4 separate regions of the Homo sapiens genome follow, and all the other regions are linked to region 1. Evidence: fine-mapped expression QTL. A gene starts in region 1. Each other region holds a variant in brackets. All regions are shown on one strand. Distances are from middle to middle. Region 1 holds the start of ADAP1 (ArfGAP with dual PH domains 1). Region 2 overlaps ADAP1 (ArfGAP with dual PH domains 1). Region 3 overlaps ADAP1 (ArfGAP with dual PH domains 1). Region 4 overlaps ADAP1 (ArfGAP with dual PH domains 1).

The links.
Region 2: its variant is fine-mapped to the expression of ADAP1 in whole blood (TOPMed, PIP 0.99).
Region 3: its variant is fine-mapped to the expression of ADAP1 in whole blood (TOPMed, PIP above 0.99).
Region 4: its variant is fine-mapped to the expression of ADAP1 in whole blood (INTERVAL, PIP above 0.99). The same link has a PIP of 0.9 or more in atrial appendage, thyroid and unexposed skin.

The regions. Positions count from the first base shown.
Region 1 is chr7:952,391-957,206 of GRCh38, forward strand. ADAP1 (ArfGAP with dual PH domains 1) reads right to left here and starts at 2,290. Exons shown (of 11, transcript NM_006869.4): 1 at 2,006-2,290. The coding sequence starts at 2,087. LOC124901569 (a long non-coding RNA gene) reads left to right here and starts at 2,464. Exons shown (of 2, transcript XR_007060178.1): 1 at 2,464-2,874; 2 at 2,978-3,100. RefSeq lists enhancers at 740-1,351, 2,574-3,183 and silencers at 1,477-1,686, 1,977-2,466, 2,486-2,641, 2,497-2,596.
Region 2 is chr7:913,366-918,181 of GRCh38, forward strand. The region is part of intron 4 of ADAP1 (ArfGAP with dual PH domains 1); the gene reads right to left. Among named protein-coding and RNA genes, the nearest start is that of ADAP1, 39 kb to the right of the region's middle. The variant A/C (reference allele first, on the strand shown) is at 1,931.
Region 3 is chr7:906,362-911,177 of GRCh38, forward strand. All of the region lies in intron 4 of ADAP1 (ArfGAP with dual PH domains 1), which reads right to left. Among named protein-coding and RNA genes, the nearest start is that of GET4, 32 kb to the left of the region's middle. RefSeq lists an enhancer at 1,341-2,039 and a silencer at 2,554-2,773. The variant G/GA (reference allele first, on the strand shown) is at 2,664.
Region 4 is chr7:920,073-924,888 of GRCh38, forward strand. All of the region lies in intron 3 of ADAP1 (ArfGAP with dual PH domains 1), which reads right to left. Among named protein-coding and RNA genes, the nearest start is that of ADAP1, 32 kb to the right of the region's middle. RefSeq lists enhancers at 2,828-2,887, 3,478-3,527, 4,677-4,786. The variant C/T (reference allele first, on the strand shown) is at 1,991.

The DNA of each region.
Region 1 (4,816 bases):
TCTGAGGACAGCAGAACGTGCCGGCCACCCCAGCCCCCATCAACACTGGAGTGGCTCCTTGTCACCCAGCTGGGCCACAGCAGGTACAGGAGGCCCCAGAGCAGCTGGCATCAGCAAAGAAGCATAGAGCCCTCGAGGATGTGCCATGGGGTCATGGGGGGCTAGGCAGCCCCCTGCCTCCTGACACCGCCTGTTCCACCCTGTGGCCACAGCCCTGGGGAGCGGGGACAAGCAGAGCGGCCGGGTGTGGCTCATGTCCCCTAAGACAGCTCCCTTTGCAAGGCATCAGTCTCCCTGGCTGTGAAATGAGAGTGACCCCTCACAGCATCCCCCCTCCATGGCGCTACCCGACAGAGGAGACAAGTCACTGAGGTCATGGACAGATTCTGAAAAGGCAGAGGTGCGGCCCTCTACCCGGCAGCGTGGGGCATAGGGACGGCAGAGAACAGCTCTGGGGTGGGCCAGGCTGGAAGCTTAGCAGGTGGGCCGGGCACACCTGCACCCACTGGGAGGGGAGGACCACTGAAGGACCCAGCAGGCCAAGGAAGTCCCCTCTTCCTCCTGCCAGGCTGGGAGGCCCAGAGGGTGGCTGGAGAGGGGCCCTGAGTCCAGAGAAGCTGCTCCCAGGCTGTGTGGCCAGGGAGCAGAGGTTCAGAGGCAAGCCCAGCTCCCCTCCCCGTGGGCCACAGCAACCCCAGGCCAGGCCCTTTCCCACTGGCTTTCCTGGGGAGCGTTCCTGAACAGGAGGAAATAAAGGTCTGTGGGGAGAGAGTCTGGGGTGAGCCAGCCCAGGGGGCCACCCCCACCGCACCATTGCACGGGCCCTGTGGCCGTCCTGTCTCAGGAGACCATGGAAAGGCCGTGGGTCCTGCCTGTCTTTCCAGAAAAGCCTGTCGCTATCTCCCCTCTGGGACACCCCAGCTCCTGATGTGGCCTTTCCAGCCAAGCTGCAGCTGGACAGCAGCCACCACGACCTGGGGCTGGCAGAGACCCCTCCATCCCAGAGGGAATCAGGGACACCCCTTTTTCCGGGGTGTCCAGAGGCTGCATATTGAACCAGGGCCTTGGAGGCAAATGCAAGGTCTTCCCCCGCTCCCTCCCTGGGGGCCTCAGTCACCGCCGGTGAGTTTAGGTTTGTTCCGAGGGGCTTAGACTATTGGCCCCCAGATTCCTGGTGTGCCTGGGGTGGCGGGACTGCTCCGGCGGGGCCCTCTCTCCACAGCGCAGCCGGCCTGGGGCTGACAGCTCCCGAGCAGGGCAGGGCTGGTCTGGGCACTGGGCCCCGTTCACAGCCAATGACAGGACCAGTGGCCTGGAAGGGAGGGACTCCGCGCCTTTGGACTCCAGTGCCTTGAAATCCCACAGACCTGGGAACCGAGTCAGGGATGCCCGGCCGGGAGAACGAACGGGCGGGCGGCGGGTGGACCAGGACCTGCGTCCGGCCCCACCTCTCCCAGGCCTCACCTGTCCTGGCGCCCGCCCCGGAGCAGCCAGGTGCAGGGAGCCGGGGGCAGGGGCGCCGCTCACACCCAGGGACCCCCGGTGCGGGAAGGGCGTGAGGCATGACGTCACCGCGAGGTGGCCCCGGAGCCGGCGGACCCCACAGCCCAGCAGAGACCTCCGGCTGGCGGCCCGTTCCCTCCCTGCAGCCAGCCCCGATTTCCTCTTTCTGTGCGGAGCCCGAGCTTTCGCAACGCGGCGGGCGGTCCGCGGTGACCGTCAGACACGCAGCCCGGCGGGGGAGGGGAGGCGGCGGCAGGGGGGTTTCCGGGGGTCCTGGGGGGGGCCCCCCCGCTGCGCCCGGCCCGGGAAGACGTCCGGGTCCCCGCAGGTGCAGCCGGGCCCGGGCCCCATCCGAGCGCCGATCCGGCCCGGTGTTCAGCGCCGCCACCCCCGCGGCGTCCGCGCTCCCCCGCCCGGTCCCCGGGGCCCACCCAGGACCCGCCCGGCACCCCGCGCCCACCCCGGACCCACCCGGCCCCGCGCCCACCCGGCCCACACCTACCCGGGGCGCCGCAGTCCGCGCAGCGCGCGTTCCCCGGCCGCTGCAGCAGCTCCAGGACCGCCCTGCGCCGCTCCTTGGCCATGGCCGCGATGCGCCCGCGATGCCGATGCCGGGGCCGGGGCCGGGAGCGTCAGCCCGGCTCGCTAGGGCCCCGCGCAGGCCGCCCGCCGCCGCCGCCCCTGCGCCATCCCGGGCGGCCTCAGCCCGCGCGCCGGTTCCGCATTCCCGCCGCCCTCTGGGCTCCGCCGCCGCCGCTCGTGTCTCCGCCGCGGTCGCTGAGCGAGTGCCGGCGCGGGGCCCGGGGCGCACGCTGCGCTCTGGCCGGCAAGGCCCGCGGGCGGCCCCCAGCGGTGCAGGCGAGCGTGTGGCCTCCTCCCTCGGCCGCTCCGGCGCCCCCAGCCCGCGCGCCCCGGGGACCCGCTGGGAAATCGCCCGCCGCCCGCCCCCCATCCGCGCGCAGCGTCCCACCTGCCTGGGCGCGAGGCCGCCCCAAAACCTGGCCGGCCTGGGTGGGACCCTCGTGCCGCCGCGCGCGGTGGGACGGAGCCTGCACACCTACTGTGGGGGGCGCAGAGGGCACCTGCCGAGCCCCCCAAGACCATGGGCATGGGGGTGCTCGTGGAAGGCAGGTGTGCGTGTCCTGTGCTACGGACCAGGACCAGGGCGCTCACACCATCCCTGCCTGGGAGGGACGGCCAGCAGGTGACAAACGCCAGCGTCCCAGGGCACTGAGGCCACACAGGGCCCAGACGGAGCCTCCCCCTGAGACCCACCCAGCCGCCCACCACCCACAGATGGGACCCTCTGGGCACCCCTCCCACTCAGGCAGGCTGAGGGGCCCCGCCGGGACTTCACATGGGGGCTGACAGGTAACAAAAAACCTGGTTTTGATGTCACCTCTTCCCAGACTCGCGTGCCCTTCCTCTGCACACCCCAGCATCTTTTCAAATTCTTTCCATTTTCTTCTTGCAGGGTTAATGCAGTACACCCGGCTGAAAACAAACTGGAACATACCAGACTGAAAAAGGAAAGCCTCTCCCCACTGCCTTCCAGGCAACCACTGTTAACAAATTCCTCAGCACCTTCCAGAACGAACGTCTGAGGCCTGTAGCCTTTCATTTATTTATTCATTTATCGAGACAGGGTTTTGGCTAACGGCTGTAATCCCAGCACTTTGGGAGACCCTGGCGGGTGGATCACTTGAGCTCAGGAGTTTGAGACCAGCCTGGGCAACATGGTGAAACCCCGTCTCTACTAAATACAAAGAAATTAGCCAGGCGTGGTGGCGCATGCCTGCAATCCCAGCTACTTGGGAGGCTGAGGCAGGAGAATCGCATGAACCTGGCAGGCAGAGGTTGCAGCGAGCCGAGATTGCGCCATTGCACTCCAGCCTGGGCAACAAGAGTGAAACTCCGTTTCAAAAAAAAAAAAAAAAAAAAAAAACCAAACAAACAAACTCAAAAAAAGTTCAACTGAACCATGACTTGTTCACCCAGTCACTGGCATAGGGGCATTTAGAGCGTTTTGAATGCATCAGAATCATGGTCTACACAACCTCATCTTTGCAAGAGTTTTGTGTGGATTTGCTCTCAAAGTGGCATCGCTGGGGCAATGGTATGGGATGTGGAATGGCCTCCACTGAGGCTGCACTGACCAGAGTGCCACCAAAGGCACCTGTCCCCCTGCTCCAGCTGACGTGGAATCATGGAGCTGCTTAAGCTCTGTCTACCTGAAGCAGAACGCGGCAGCCCGTTTTGGTCTGTGTCTCTGGGATCTGTGCCCTGTGGCATCACGTGCTCTTTCCCTGTAACCGTTCACATGGGTCTTTCTCCTCCCTCAGACGGGAGGCTTTGGGGTGGGGACAGGTGGCATTTTCATCTCTGGGTCCCTGTGCCAGGCTCGGAATCCACCACACAGCATGAGCTTGGAGAATGTCGCCTAATAAAGACAGACGAACATTAATAGCAGCAGCTCAGCACTAGGTATTAGGAGAAATAGCCTGACTTGTATTTTCTATTTTCTTTTCTTTTCTTTTCTTTTTTTCCTTTTTTTTTTTTTTTTTTTGAGACAGGGTTTTGGTCTATCGCCCAGGCTGGAGTGCAGTGGCACGATCTTAGCTCACTGCAACCTCTGCTTCCTGGGGTCAGGTGATTCTCCTGCCTCAGCCTCCTGAGTAGCTGGGACCACAAATGGGTGCCACCATGCCCAGGTATATTTTTATTTTTTGGTAGAGACAGGGTTTCACCATGTTGCCCAGGCTGGTCTCGAACACCTGACTTCACGTGATCTGCCTGCCTTAGCCTCTGAAAGTGCTGGGATTACAGGCCTGAGCCACCACGCCTGGCTTGACGTGTATTTTCTTTTTTCTTTTTTTTTTTTTTGAGACAGAGTCTTGCTCTGTCACCCAGGCTGGAGTGCAGTGGTGCGATCTCGGCTCACTGCAAGCTCCGCCTCCCGGGTTCACACCATTCTCCTGCCTCAGCCTCCCCAGCAGCTGGGACACAGGTGCATGCCACCACGCCCGGCTAATTTTTTTGTATTTTTAGTAGAGACGGGGTTTCACCGTGTTAGCCAGGATGCTCTCGATCTCCTGACCTCGTGATCCGCCTGCCTAGGCCTCCCAAAGTGCTGGTATTATGGGCGTGAGCCACCGCGACCGGCCGACATGTATTTTCTTATTAAAGCCCCATTTTCAGCTGGGAAGACTGAGGCACGGGGAGGTTCGATCCCTTGCTGGAGGCCACACACCTCAGGACTGGAATATACATAAAACAATATAACAAAGCAACACACCCTAACATAGCCGTTACC
Region 2 (4,816 bases), 39 kb before region 1:
AATTTTTTTGTATTTTTAGTAGAGACGGGGTTTCACCGTGTTAGCCAGGATGGTCTTGATCTCCTGACCTCGTGATCCGCCTGCCTCAGCCTCCCAAAGTGCTGGGATTACAGGCGTGAGGCACCGCGCCCGGTCCTCCCCTTTCTCTTTACTTGTTCCATTCTTTATGTATATGTCTATGGACTTGGGGGTGTGTACCTTGCTCCCCTGTTATAATCCCCTTATACCATCTTCCTTTTGTTGCTCAAATTACTCCCCCAGCTTTAGCCATTAAAAGCTCCTTCAGAGGCCAGGTGTGGTGGCTCACGCCTATAATCTCAGCACTTTGGGAGGCCGAGGCGGGCGGGTCACCTGAGGTCAGGAGTTCCAGACCAGCCTGGCCAACATGATGAAATCCTGTCTCTACTAAAAATATAAAAATTAGCCGGGCGTGGTGGGGGGCGCCTGTAGTCCCAGCTACTCAGGATGCTGAGGCAGGAGAATGGCGGGAACCCGGGAGGTGGACATTGCGGTGAGCTGAGACCGCACCATTGCACCGCAGCCTGGGCAACAGAGCAGGAAAAAACAAACAAACAAAAAACTCCTTCAGAAAAGCCCGGTGGTGATCCTTCCTTTTGGGTGGCCTAACAGAGGGATGGAGTGGGGCTCCGCCTTCCTCAGCCATGGTCCTGGGTGGCGTGGCCCACACACAGGACATCTGGGGCCCCCGCCCTGTGAGAACAACCCGGCCATTTCCACCCACAGCCAAGGTGCAGGCTGTGGGCACTGGGCGTGGCACAGCCTCTAGGAGTTCTTGGTTCCGGCTCATTCCAGGGCAGACCTGCAGCCACTCCTCTGTGCAGAGCGGGAGCCACCTGGCCCAGGCCTCACCTGGCCAACGTGGGGTTGTGGGTGTGGCAGGCCCTTCCCAAGCCCCGAGCTTCCCCTTCCTCCCGGGCCCTGCCGCAGGGACTTCTATATTTCCCTGTGGTCGTGAGGTGTCGCCACTGCCGTGATAAAGGGCTCTGGTGGCAAAGCCAGGGAGCAGGGCAGGAACGCCGCCGGGAATCCCCAGTGCACTCTGGGAGGGGTTGGGAGGCCCGGGAACTGCCAACTGGCGCTGGAGCCCTGTGGAGGAGGCTCTGCCCACGGGGCCGCCCCAGACAGGAGGACACGTCCTCTCCTGCTGCTGCACCCACCCAGACATGGGCTCAGGGTGGGGGCCATGGGGAGGCTCGGGGGGTCCCTGAGGTCTAACCCTGAGCACCAGATGGACACCTGCTCCCTCATCCATCCAGCAAAGGGCAGAACCTAGGGTTCCAAATAGCAGCGGGCAGCTAGGTCTGTGGGAGAGGTGCCCTGGAGCCCCTGAACACACAAGGAGACAGGCAGGGCATCTCACAGGGCCCTGGAACCCCGCCCTGCACAGCACCCAGAGACAGCAGCCTGGAGCACAGACAGTCACCGCCTGCTGGTCCCCAGGCACTTGGCCGTCTGAAGCAGCCAGGCCTTCGTGCCTACTGACCAGGCTGCAGGGGCAGGGTAGAGGGGAGGCTTCAAGGAGGGGTGAGCCCTGCCCTGAGCAGGTGGGTGTCAGTGGGCCCTGAGCACAGGGCCATACGACTCAGCACCTCTGGGTCCCTGGGATCCCAGCAGCCTCCCTGCAGCCGGGGCTCTGGGGCCCGAGGCCCTCTGGCTGGCGTGCCTGGTGCCTCCTGCGCGACCTGGAAGGTGCCGTGGCCCAAGGGAGACAGCAGCCACACACTCTGGAGCAGCCGCAGTCTACGACCCCATGCCCTCTGCAAGAGGCTGCCACCCTGCTGCCAGGTAACACCTGGCCACGGCACTCACGGCACCTTCACAAAGGGCCAGCCCTGCACTCACACCTGCACACCTCGCCTGTGCATCTCACCTGTGCCGCACACACCCGTACATCTCGTCTGTGTACCTC[A/C]CCCGTGCCTCATGCACACTGTGCACCTCCCCACCATCCTCACACCCATCCAGGGGAGAGAACAGAGGGCACAGCCCATGCGGCCTGGTCTCCACAGGCAGATCATGAGCCTGGTGCTGCGGACGTGGCCGCCCCGCCGGGCCTGGTATGAGAAGCGGCCATTCACTCAGCGTGGGCTTCAGAGGCCGGCAGGCAAGGCCAAGGCCTTGGGCTCCGACCCTGCGAGCAAGCGTGTGCCTGAAAACCTCTGCCCCGACTCTACCCTGCTGGGAGGCCTCTCCCTCCCTCCAACCCCTGCCCGAGGGTCACACGGGAGGCTTTAGCTCATCTCAAATGCTCTCAAGGGAATATCTCAGACAACAGCAAAGGCAGGAATGGGATTCCAGTGGGGCAGGAACAGGATTCCAGTTGGGCAGCCTCGGGCCTGGGGCAGGAGGCGTCTTGGGTCACCAGGCCTGTCACCACCTCCTGGCCCTGAGCCCAATGACACCCATATACCCCTGCAGAACCTACGCCCACTGCCGACGAGACGCTGTCTGCCACCCGCCTGCAGAACCCAGAACCCGCGCCCACTTTCCACGAGACGCTGTCTGCCACCCGCCTGCAGAACCCAGAACCCGCGCCCACTTTCCACGAGATGCCGTCTGCCACCTGCCTGCAGAACCCACGCCCACTGCCCACGAGACACTGTCTGCCACCTGCACGCACCCCCACTTCTGGAGCCCAGACCTGATCTTCCCCAGAAGGGCCACTCCAGGGGCCAGAGGCGGGCACGCCACCTAGGGCGCCACGTTTCCCAAGTCACATCCCGGCCCGACCAGTCAGAGGTGACGAGACAGGGACTTTTTCCAGCACTTCTGTGAGCCACACCTGACCTTTCCTGGCAGCCCGGGAGAGCAGGGATGTAAAACCCAAACTTGCCAAAGGAGGTGGCCACCAGGAGGATTGGTGCCAACCTAGAGACGCAGAACTAGGAGATAGAGGTGCTGAAACCAGGTCCCAACGACACCAGCTAAACCCCTAGATCAAGCTGTGCCCTGTTATTCCAGTCAATCCATTTCCAGTTTTGCTGACACCCAGTGAAGTTGGATTTTCCATCCTTTACAACCAGAGGGTTCTGATACAAGAACAGACACAAAACTCAGTCCTGTGGTCACGCCAGCCCAGCCCATGCCTGCCTCTGAAGTGAGGCCACGTGCCACCTTGCTACAAATTGCTAAGATGTTTCTGCCGAGGGAAACGGAGGGGCTCTGGGGTGATTCTTTGGGGGTTTAAGGCAGGAGTGGAGCGAGGGGTGTGCTGGGTGCTGAGCAGGTCCAGGTGCCCGCGTGTTCATCCCCTGACCGTTTCTTGCTCTCTCCCTCACACACACAGGGATTCTTGAGAGGAAGAAATTGCTGTCTGGGTAGACAGTAATTGAATCAGCGCCTGCACAGGCTGGCTGTGTGCCAAGTGGGGGTTGGGGGGGCAGGAGCTGCCCTGGAGGAGGGCAGAGCCGACAGGACCGCTGCATGAGACCCCAGCCTGACCTGGGGAGGTGCCTTGCTCAGGCCTGGGGCAGCCTCCCACCGGTCACCCCTGCTCACCCCACGCCGCTCCTGGGAGAAAATCCACGGTCCTGACAGAGCCCAGGGAGGTGCACGGGAGGGGGGCGCAGTGCCAGCTCTACCGGGGAGGTGCACAGGAGGGGTGCGCAGTGCCAGCTCTACCGGGGAGGTGCACGGGAGGGGGGCGCAGTGCCAGCTCTACCGGGGAGGTGCACGGGAGGGGGGCGCAGTGCCAGCTCTACCGGGGAGGTGCACGGGAGGGGGGCGCAGTGCCAGCTCTACCGGGGAGTTGCACGGGAGGGGGGCGCAGTGCCAGCTCTACCGGGGAGGTGCACGGGAGGGGGGGCGCAGTGCCAGCTCTACCGGGGAGGTGCACGGGAGGGGGGCGCAGTGCCAGCTCTACCGGGGAGTTGCACGGGAGGGGGGCGCAGTGCCAGCTCTACCGGGGAGGTGCACGGGAGGGGGGGCGCAGTGCCAGCTCTACCGGGGAGGTGCACGGGAGGGGGGCGCAGTGCCAGCTCTACCAGGGAGGGCTGGGAGGGGTTGGAGCACTGGGGGTCAGGGGCTTCTCCACTGAACCCACCTACAACACCAGGACTGTGTTCAGCCATTTCAGGGCCGCCTCTCTTTCACATATTTTGAGACAGACTTTTGCTCTGCCGCCCAGGCTGGAGTGCAGAGGCGCAATCTCGGCTCATTGCAACCTCCGCCTTCCAGGTTCAAGCGATTCTCCTGCATCAGCCTGCCGAGGAGCTGGGATTACAGGCACCTGCCACCACACCTGGCTAATTTTTGTATTTTTTACTAGAAACAGTTTTGCCACGTTGACCAGATTGGTCTCGAACTCGTGGTCTCAAGTGATCCATCCGCCCGCCTAGGCCTCCCAAGGTGCTTCTTTTATTCTTGGGGTGAGATTCACAAATACGATTCATCTTTTTTCTTGTTACAGACACACTCTCGCTCTGACGTCCAGGCTGGAGTGTAGTGGTGCAACCTTGGCTCACTGCAGCCTCCGCCTCCCAGGCTCAAGAGATCCTCCCGCCTCAGTCTCCCAAGTAGCTGGAACCACAGATGTGCGCCAACCACGCCCAGCTAATTTTGCATTTTTTGGTAGAGTCCAAAAAATGAGCAACATGGGGTTTCGCCACGTTGCTCAGGCTGGTCTTGAACTCCTGAGATCAGGAGATCTGCCCGCCTTGACCTCCATATAAAGTGCTGGGATTACAGGTGTGCGCCAACCGTGCACAGCTAATTTTTGTATTTTTAGTAGAGACGGGGTTTCACCATGTTGGCCAGGCTGGCCTCAAACTGCTGACTGCAACGGATCCACCTGCCTCCC
Region 3 (4,816 bases), 46 kb before region 1:
AGAAAGAGAAAGGAGAAAGGAGAAAGGAGAAAGGAGAAAGGGAAAGGAGAAAGGGAGAAAGGGAAAGGAGAAAGGAGAAAGGAGAAAGGAGAAAGGGAAAGGAGAAAGGAGAAAGGAGAAAGGAGAAAGGGAAAGGAGAAAGGGAGAAAGGAGAAAGGAGAAAGGGAAAGGAGAAAGGAGAAGGGAGAAAGGGAGAAAGGGAAAGGAGAAAGGGAAAGGAGAAAGGAGAAAGGAGAAGGGAGAAAGGGAGAAAGGGAAAGGAGAAAGGAGAAAGGAGAAAGGGAAAGGAGAAAGGGGGCGGGAAAGGGGACATGGACAGGGGACACGGGGGACATGGACATGGGGGACGGGACATCGGGGACGGGACATGGGGGACAGAGTACATAGGGGACATGGACAGGGGACATGGGGGACAGGGGACACGGGGGACGGGACAGGGGACATGGGGGGACATGGGTCAGATGGTGATGGTGGATGGTTGGTGAGGGGATATGACAGTGGACCAGCGCTGTTGGCTGCAACCCTGGCCCAAGCCAGCCTGAGGACGGCCTGGATGAGCGGGACTCCAGCTGTCCTTTACTGGCCCCCAGGGACCCTCCCCATCCTGAGTGGACATGGCCAGAGCCACCATGGGCAGAGGCAGGGCTGGGTCCAACCTCGTGCTGCCCGGGAGGACCAGGCTGGCCTCCTCCCTCCTCCCTCAGCCGTCCGCAGCTGCTGGGTCCAGGTGGTGCCATCCCCTCTTTTTTCAGGAAAGCTCATCTGAGGGGAGTCCAGCTCAAGCCCTCATCTCCGCCTGTGGCCTCACGCACACCACACACAGCCACAGAAAAGTAGCCCGGGCATCCCCCTGGGAGCCTAAGCACCTGGACACGCCACCTTCTATGGCAAAACACACCGTGCACGGGTGGTTAGGACGCTGCTGTGGCAGACGATCACAGGGGAGGGAGGCAGAGATATGAGGACAGGAGGGAAGGGGACGTGGCCGTGGAAACTGAGGCCAGAGGGGGCCCCAGAGCCCAGGAGCACCAGGGAGAGGCCAGAGGACCCGTCCTGAGCCCAGAACCAGCTCTGCCCACTCCGAGTCTCGGGCCCGTGGGATCGTCCTGGAGCTCTGCCAGAGCTGTGGGAGAACAAACACGTGTGGCTTCACGTCACTGAGCTGCGGTCAGTGACCCACGTGTGGCCACTCAGAGGGGCGTTCCCATCCCCCCCAGGCCCCGCTCCCACTTCTGCTCCCTGTCCGTGGTTCCTATCGTTGCCCGTCCTTTCTCCTGCTCTGGAACTCTGTGTCCTGCGGACTCAGATGCAGCTTCTTCTATGGCCCTGGCTGTCCCGCCCCAACAGCATGTGGCTTGCAGCATCCGTGTCCTGGGCTCCGTCTGCCAGGCCTTGGGTCGCGTGCAGGTCCCGCCGTTGGCAGCAGCTGCGTGGCCAGGGTCGAGCAGGTCCTCAGTGGGTGCAGACTCTCCTGGGATCACGGGGCCGTCTGCCAAGCATCCCCAGTGGGCGCCGCCTCTCCGGAGGTCGCGGGGCCGTCTGCCGAGGAGCCGTCTGCCGAGCATCCGTGGCCCCTCCAGGGGTCGCGGGGCCGTCTGCCCAGTGTCCGTGGGCCCTTCCCGGGGTCGTGGGGCCGTCTGCTGAGCATCCGTGGGCCTGTCCGTGACCCCTCAGTGACTTCAGAGAGCACTTGCTTGGGGACAGCATCCCATCCTGCTGGCCATGTGGCCTGGGAGCCCCGGTCATCTGAGGGCAGGGGCTGCTGACCTACGCCACAGGGACGCGAGGGGGCTGTGGGCTCCAGGCGGGGCTAAACAGCCCCCTGCAGCAGCCAACAGGCCAGACAGAGGCTCAGATTGCAGACACCGCCCATCAGCCCTGACCACCAAAGCCCCCTGCTCCCCAGCATCCCCTCCCCAGCTCAGACAGCCCCATCCCGACACCAGAGACCAGGGGCTATTTTCTCTGCTGAGATGCAAGCCATAAAACGCCTGGCGTTGGGGAGGGGACAGCTGGTGCCCTCGGGGAGGGGGCCCTGGGCTGTCTTGGATGGTGCCAGACGGGGCCTGCTCCCCTCACTGCCCGGAGCTCCCCGCTCCCCAAGCCTCTACAAGGCTGCTGCCCCAGCCCCGTGCGCACAGCAGCAGCCAGGAGCCCCCTTCCCATGGAAGAACCCCCTTCTCCTGCTTCTCACTGTGAGAGCGAGGCCACCAGTGTCCCTCAGACCCAAGTAAGGCCTGCTCAGAACGCCTGTTGACTCAGTGAGCCCCTGCCCAGGCACAGCTGGGTGTCCCCACGGCTCTGCCTCCGACATCAGGACCTCTTTGGACGCGGCGCTTCGTGGCTGAGGGTGGACGCCGAGAAGTGCCCGGGGAGGCATCGCAGCAGCGGGCCCAGCGGCGCTTCCCGGCCTCTGCCGCTCACGGCCTTGTGTGCACCCCGGGGAGCCTCCAAGGCGTGCGTGTCCGTGTCACCAATGCAGACGACAAGTTTGGGCCACCTCGCCCACGGGGGTGGAGCTGGCTGGGTCCAGTGTGTCGGTTCCACAGACCCCTGCCCAGGACACAGCGGGGGCCCCTTCCAGCGACCGGGCTCCCTAGGCCACAGGGTGGGGACGCGCCCCTGCCATGCCCGCCGCGCCCAGCAGGTGACAGCAGTGCTCC[G/GA]GAAGCGCGCAGGCCGCGGGGTCTGGGAGGCCACTGCCCCTCTGCACGCGCGCAGCTGCTCCGGTGTTCTCGGGGTCCAGACGCCAGCGGGAACCCCGGTCCTCCCGACAGCAGGCGCCAGCGGGAACCCCGGTCCTCCCGACAGCAGGCGCCAGCGGGAACCCCGGACCTCCCGACAGCAGGCGCCAGCGGGAACCCCGGTCCTCCCGACAGCAGGCGCCAGCGGGAACCCCGGACCTCCCGACAGCAGGCGCCAGCGGGAACCCCGGTCCTCCCGACAGCAGGCGCCAGCGGGAACCCCGGTCCTCCCGACAGCAGGCGCCAGCGGGAACCCCGGTCCTCCCGACAGCAGGCGCCAGCGGGAACCCCGGTCCTCCCGACAGCAGGCGCCAGCGGGAACCCCGGTCCTCCCGACAGCAGGCGCCAGGACGCCGCATTCCAGGGGCAATGACGACGCAGGAGTGTATTTCAGGACGGCGCTGGCCACGGTCCCGGACGCGCCCCACGCCCAGTCCAGACCTCAGGCTGAGCCTCTGCTCTCCCCATGCCTGGCCAGCCCCTTGGCCTCGCTGGGGAGGGCCAGGACCTCAGGGGCCTGCAGCCCCCAGTCGGCACCAGCAACAGCCAGTGAGACGGGGCTTCTCCCCACAGAGCAGCCCCTCACACGGCAGCGTCCTGGACAGCCGGGTGGGCTGTGGCCAGAAATGGCCATTTTCTCTTAAAGGACTCGTGAGTCCTGGGGCAGGACTCGACCAGTATTTATCAAACAGCTACCGCGTGCCGCGCCCTGCTGTGAGCTGGTCCCGCTGTGTGTCGGGTCCTATGGTGTGGGGTGGGGGGGGTTCTACTGCACACCAGGCCCTACTGTGTGCCGGTCCCACTGTGTGCCAGGTCTTGTCCCACCTGTGGGGAGCTGGGTCCAGTCCACACCCCATGCCCTGCTCAGACGCCTCTGAGGAGCCCTTCTGCCCACCGCACGGCTAAGAGCAGGAAAGACGTTCAGCATCGCCATGACCCACGAGAACGGCAAAACCAAACCAGTGTGCACACACAGGCGCCCGACTGTGGGCGGGGACGCCGGCCCTTCCACGCTGCCCGTGGGGATGTAAGGTGCCCCAGTCCCTGGAAAGCAGCCAGGCCGTTTCTTCCACCACAGTGAAGCGCGCACATCACGTGCCTCAGAGAGAAGTGAAATCCGAGGAAACAGGAACAGCCTTCACATAAAGCCCACACCCGTTTACGAGGCTTTTTTTTTTTTTTCCCCACCCAGGCTGGAGTGCAGGGGCACTATCACAGCTCACTGCAGCCTTGACCTTCCGGGCTCAAGTGATCCTCCAGCCTTGGCCTCCCGAGTAGCTGGGACCACAGATGCACGCCACCACACCCGGCTAAGTTCTGTATTTTTTTGTAGAGATGGGAGCTCACTGCGTTGCCCAGGCTGGTCTCGAACTTCTGAGCTCAGGTGACCCTCCTGCCTCTCCTCCCACCATACTGGGGTTGCAGCGTGAGCCCCACGCCTGGCCCGAGACTGCTGGGTCTTGGATTTGTCAGAGCTGGGACTGCACTCTAAATAGGATATGCAAAGTAGATGTAAATCACACCTCACGTATGTGATTTATATGCTAATTGTCTTGTAAACTGGGGCAGGGAAGCACGTGGCCCTGCTCTGAGTGACAGCTCACAGGGTGGTGGACCCTCTGGGGTGGGAACTGCATCCCCATATCTCATGGGGCCTCTGGCCTTCCACAGGGAGGGGTGCACCATGGATGGGTGGCCTCTGAGAACGGGGCCGAGGCCCTGATCACTGCACCCCGGCCGTCCCTGTGAAGGGCCTGGACCTGGCTTCCGGCCTTTGGGTCCTAGTGGCTCCTGCCCTCCCTCAGGAGGCAAACACCGGAGCCCACGGCAGAGCAGTGTCTCCTTGCTGGGTAAGGCCTTAGAGTTGAAGGCCTCCTCTGTGAGCCCGCACAGGGCTCCGTCTCTCCCTGCCTGGCCCGTCCACCCACGCTCTCCGACCCATTAATGCACCTTCTCCAGGTTGGTGCGTCTGGGGCCGGCAGAGGCTGAGAACCAGCGGGCCGTATCCTGCGGAGGGCTCCAGGTCCCAGCTTCGCCCTGCGTGGAGCTCTCTCTCCAAACAGCCAGGACAGGGA
Region 4 (4,816 bases), 32 kb before region 1:
GCCACTGGGCCAAGGCGGCCTCCGACCCAGCACACGCCGCTCTCTGGCCCGGACCCTGGACATCTCAAGAGGCTCATAGGGACCCCCGGCAGACTCGAGCCGCCCCTCTGGGCACAAGATCCCGGAAGAAATGCAGGGTCAGCCTCCTGCCCGGGACGCTTCTCACTCTGATATTAGTTTATTGGTTTCTTGTGCGTTCGGCCCCCGGAGCATCAGGCCTCACGTTCTGCACAAGCGTTCCCGGTGGACGGGCTGGTGCCTCCCCTCTCCTTCCCACCTTGGCCTCAGCTGATGCCCCACAGGGCTGGGGTACAGGGGTTGAGCCAGGCCCCCCCACCCCGAGTCACACGCCCCTGGGCCCTCCCCGACCCTCCCCACCTCGTTGGACCGGATCTGGGAAGTGGCCGCGGCGCCGCCCTCCACCCACCGTGCTGCCACCTTGCACCCCCCGTGCCGCCCTCCACCCGCCGTGCCGCCCTCCACGTGGTTCTGAGACACAGGACGGAGCTATCAGGGCACCCGTCGAGGTCAGGAGGCGTCCGGGGCATCAGGAGAAACTACCGGCAAATACCCAAGAATCCAGGAAGACCCGGGATGAGGAGAAGCCCCCGAGAGTAAAGCCCGGGACGAGGGCCCCCCACGGCACCCACTGAGCCCAGACATCCCTGCCCAGAGCCACCCACCACGGCCTCCCCATCCACCGTGACTCACTCGAGTGAAGCCAATACCATTGCAGAAACCACGACCCACACACAGGCCCGGCACGGCCCAGGTGCACAGGCAGCCGCCCCAGCCTTTTCCACTCCCAGGGAATTACGCGGCAAAGAACAAATAGGAACCCTGTGGCTTCCTGCTGGGCCCACGTGAACAGCCTTGGAGACTGGGCGGGAATCCTCGCCCACAGGATCTGATGGGTGATGGGTCCCAGCTGGGTCTCTGGCCCCTGGCCCCAGGTGTGTGTGTGTCCCCCACCTGCTACAACGATCACCCCAAAATTCGGTCCCCGAAAGCAACAGAAATGTATCATCTCGGTCACGGAGGCCAAACGTCTGAGATCAAGGCGTCGGCCGAGCTGGTCCCTCCAGGTGTTCTGGGGAGAATCTCCTCCAGGGTCCCTCCCACCCCTGGAAGCCGCCAGTGCCCCCACCTCGGCGCCGTCCTCACCTGGCCTTCCCTGTGGGGTTTGGGCCCACCCTACTCCAGGACAACCTCACAACCTTATCTTAACCTGAAGACATCTGCAAAGATCCTACTTTTCTTTCTTTTAGAGACAGGGTCTCACTGTGTCTCCCAGGCTGGGGCACAGTGGTGCGATCACAGCTCAACGCAGCCTCCAACACCTGCACTCAAGGATCCTCCTGCCTCGGCTTCCCGAGTAGCTGGGCTAGAGGTGTGCACCACCACGACTTGGTAATTTTTTATTTTTTGTAGAGGTGGGAGCTCACTCTGTTGCCCAGGCTGGTCTGGAACTCCTGAGGCCAATCCTCCCACCTGGGCCTCCTACAGGGCTGCGATTACAGGTGTGAGCCTCGCGTCCGGCCCCTATTTCCAGATGAGTTCACCTTCACAGGGGCGGCGGGTTAGGACTTTAACACGTCTTTTCGGGGGACACCGTGCAGCTGCCTGAGCCGCTCCGGCTGTGTGACCACGGAGGAGTTGCCCCCTAGCACCCAGCGTCCCATGACCCCAGGGTCACACAGCGGCCTCTCAGAGTCACGGGAGGACCGAAGGCCGCATGTGTGGAAGCCGGGGGCCTGTGGATGAGAGGCAGGTGCCAGGGACGGCTTTGACAACCACGCCTGCCAACGGCCCTCAGGGCGGGGCACCCACAGGGTCGGCAGCCCTGCCCTGGTGCAGAATGGGCCCCCAAGGCTCACACCCGCACACAAGGGCATCCCAGGGCCTGGCACAGAAGCTTCCAGAAGCAGCAGCAGCAGGAGGAAGCCTGGGAGTGAGCACCAGGAAGTCGGGGGCTGGACCCCATCCTGCC[C/T]AGCGGAGCCCTCCGGAAGCCCCTCATCTCCTGAAAACCAGTACTGCCCGGAGCCCTCCCGACTCCCACAGCCCTGGAGGGGCCGCACTGACACCCCACGTGGTCACGAGGAGGTGGGCTTCGGGCCACCTGGCAGCCGGGACGGAGAGCCACCAGGAAAGCTCCAGCCACACCTCAGCCCACGCCCCAGGAAGTGCCCCAAGTTCCAGGGCTCAGGGGAGCCAGGCTTCAAGGACCCCTAGGCCACCCCTTCAAGGCCAGGGCCTCAGGGTCAGGTGGGTCCCCTCAACGCAGAGCAAAATGTGAGCTGGGGGCAGGGGGCCGGGCAGGTGCTCAGGGCGACTGCCTCCCCTAGGTGTGGACTCACAGGGGAAGACGCTCTGAGCCCCAGAAGCCACTTCCCCACAGGGCTCCCCCAGCCCAAGATGCCATGGGAGACCCCTCCCCGCTTTCCCCAGGACGGGTCCAGTGGCCACTGTGACCCCCATAGCGGGTGCTGTTCACACAGCTGGCACGTCCATCCCTGAGGGTCCACTCCTGAGTGTGCCTTCTGCCCGAGTTCTGCCAGTTTCCACCGCATGGAGTTCAGGACACCATCAACACCCTTCCTGGAGGCTTTGCCTCTTGCGAAAGTGACCCCCCAGGGCCCCCGGCTTTGCTTCTACGTGGTGGACCAGTGGCTCACCCAGATGGGTTTTTTCCCTTTTTATTACAGGAAAATAGCCCGGGTGGTGTTCACGCCCCCGCCCACACCCCCGCCCACGCACCTGCCTCTCAGCAACACCCCCACCCCCGCCACCCCCGCCCCCATTGTCTATCCTGGGTGTTTCCGAGGCTGCTACCACCTGAACCGCGACCCCATCCTACTGGGAGCCCTGACCCCCGGGCCTGAGTGTGCCTGTATTTGGAAATACCGTGGTTGCAGATTAGTTAAGATGAGGCCACAGGAGCAGGGTGGCCCCCAATCCAACGTGCCCGGTGTCCTTAGGAAGGGGAATTAGGACACAGACAGGTACGCAGGGCCCACGATGTGAGGAAGCACCCCGGAGAGGCCTCGGGAGAAGCAGCCTTGAGCCTCCAGCCTCCAGAGCTGGAAGAAAGTAGATTTCTGTTGCTCTGGGCCGCCGGGCATGTGGTGCTGTGTTCCAGGAGCCCCAGACATGCATGCAGAGCCCTGTCCAGCCCGGACACCTGCTCCACGGGGGGCTTGCTGGGGCTGAGGGCTCCAGGGCTTCGCTGGGATGGGCAGAGAGGAGCCCTCCAGCCGGTGCTGCCAGCAGCCAAGGGCTCCTCCCACAGCTTCCCTCACTCGCCCTGATCACCCCTCACCACACAGGAAGCAGGGAGGGGCCGGTTTCCACCCAGAAGTAAAACCAAGCAGAGCGGCCGCACGACTTTCTTTCCCCGACGTCAAGATAGAAACTGGAGAGCTCTGAGGGTGACACAGGAAGAGACGGGTCCCGGCCTCTGAGTCACAGGCTGGTGCTGAAGATAAAGAGGGCACACGAGACCCTCTGCCCTCCCCTGCGGGTGCAGCCTCCCCTCTTATAGCTGGGCAAACTGAGGCCCTGGGCCTCTGCTTAGCTGGAGGTGGGCACGGTGCTCGACCTGCCTGGAGGGACCCCAGTGTGTGCCGGGAGGCCGCAGGGCATGGCGTGGGGGGCCTTCCAGGACCCTGCTCCGGACGCTGCCCGCCACTCTTAGCTCCTGCGAAGACGCCACCCGGACATCTGTGCAGCAGAGCTTTCCCCTGAAGACCTTCAACTCAGACCCGGGCTTGTCCAGGCTGCACGGAGGCCGTGGGCACCAGCGCTGCTGGGGCTGGGAGAATCTTGGTGGGGGCAGACGTGGGAGGAAGGTGGACGAGTCCCCTGCCCACCTCGCCAGGCTGGACGTTTGGGCCCCACGAGCCACAGAGCCGGACCACAAAATGGCAGGATGTAGGCACCCCCCGCCCTCCAGGTTACACTGCAGGTCCACGCTGCACCCCCCGCCCTCCGGGTTACACTGCAGGTCCACGCTGCACCCCCCGCCCTCCGGGTTACACTGCAGGTCCACGCTGCACCCCCCGCCCTCCGGGTTACACTGCAGGTCCACGCTGCACCCCCCGCCCTCCAGGTTACACAGCAGTTCACGCTGCACCCCCCGCCCTCCAGGTTACACAGCAGGTCCATGCTGCACCCCCTCCCCGCCCTCCAGGTCCACACTGCACCCCCTGCCCTCCAGGTTACACAGCGGGTCCACGCTGCACCCCTCCCCCACCCTCGAGGTCCACGCTGCACCCCCCACCCTCCGGGTTACACTGCAGGTCCACGCTGCACCCCCCGCCCTCCGGGTTACACTGCAGGTCCACGCTGCACCCCCCGCCCTCCGGGTTACACTGCAGGTCCACGCTGCACCCCCCACCCTCCAGGTTACACAGCAGGTCCACGCTGCACCCCCCGCCCTCCAGATTACACAGCAGGTCCACACTGCACCCCCTGCCCTCCAGGTCCACGCTGCACCCCCCGCCCTCCAAGTTATACTGCAGGTCCACACTGCACCCCTGCCATGCCCCAGCATCCACGGCTCATACAGGGATTCACACCCCACCCCAGATAGTGGGTGTCAGCCCTGGGAGTCTCCTCACCCAGGACCCAACAGCAGCAGCCCCTGAGTCCACGAGCACCCCCAGCCCCCCGCACCCATGTCAGCCCCCGGTCCCGACTCAGAACAGCCAGGGAGTGGGAGGAACTTGGAGACAGTGACCCAGGCCACAGAGCAGCTGGGGGCGGGGTGATAAAATAATGTCTTAAAAATAGCTGTGCTGGGGCTCCATGATTCATA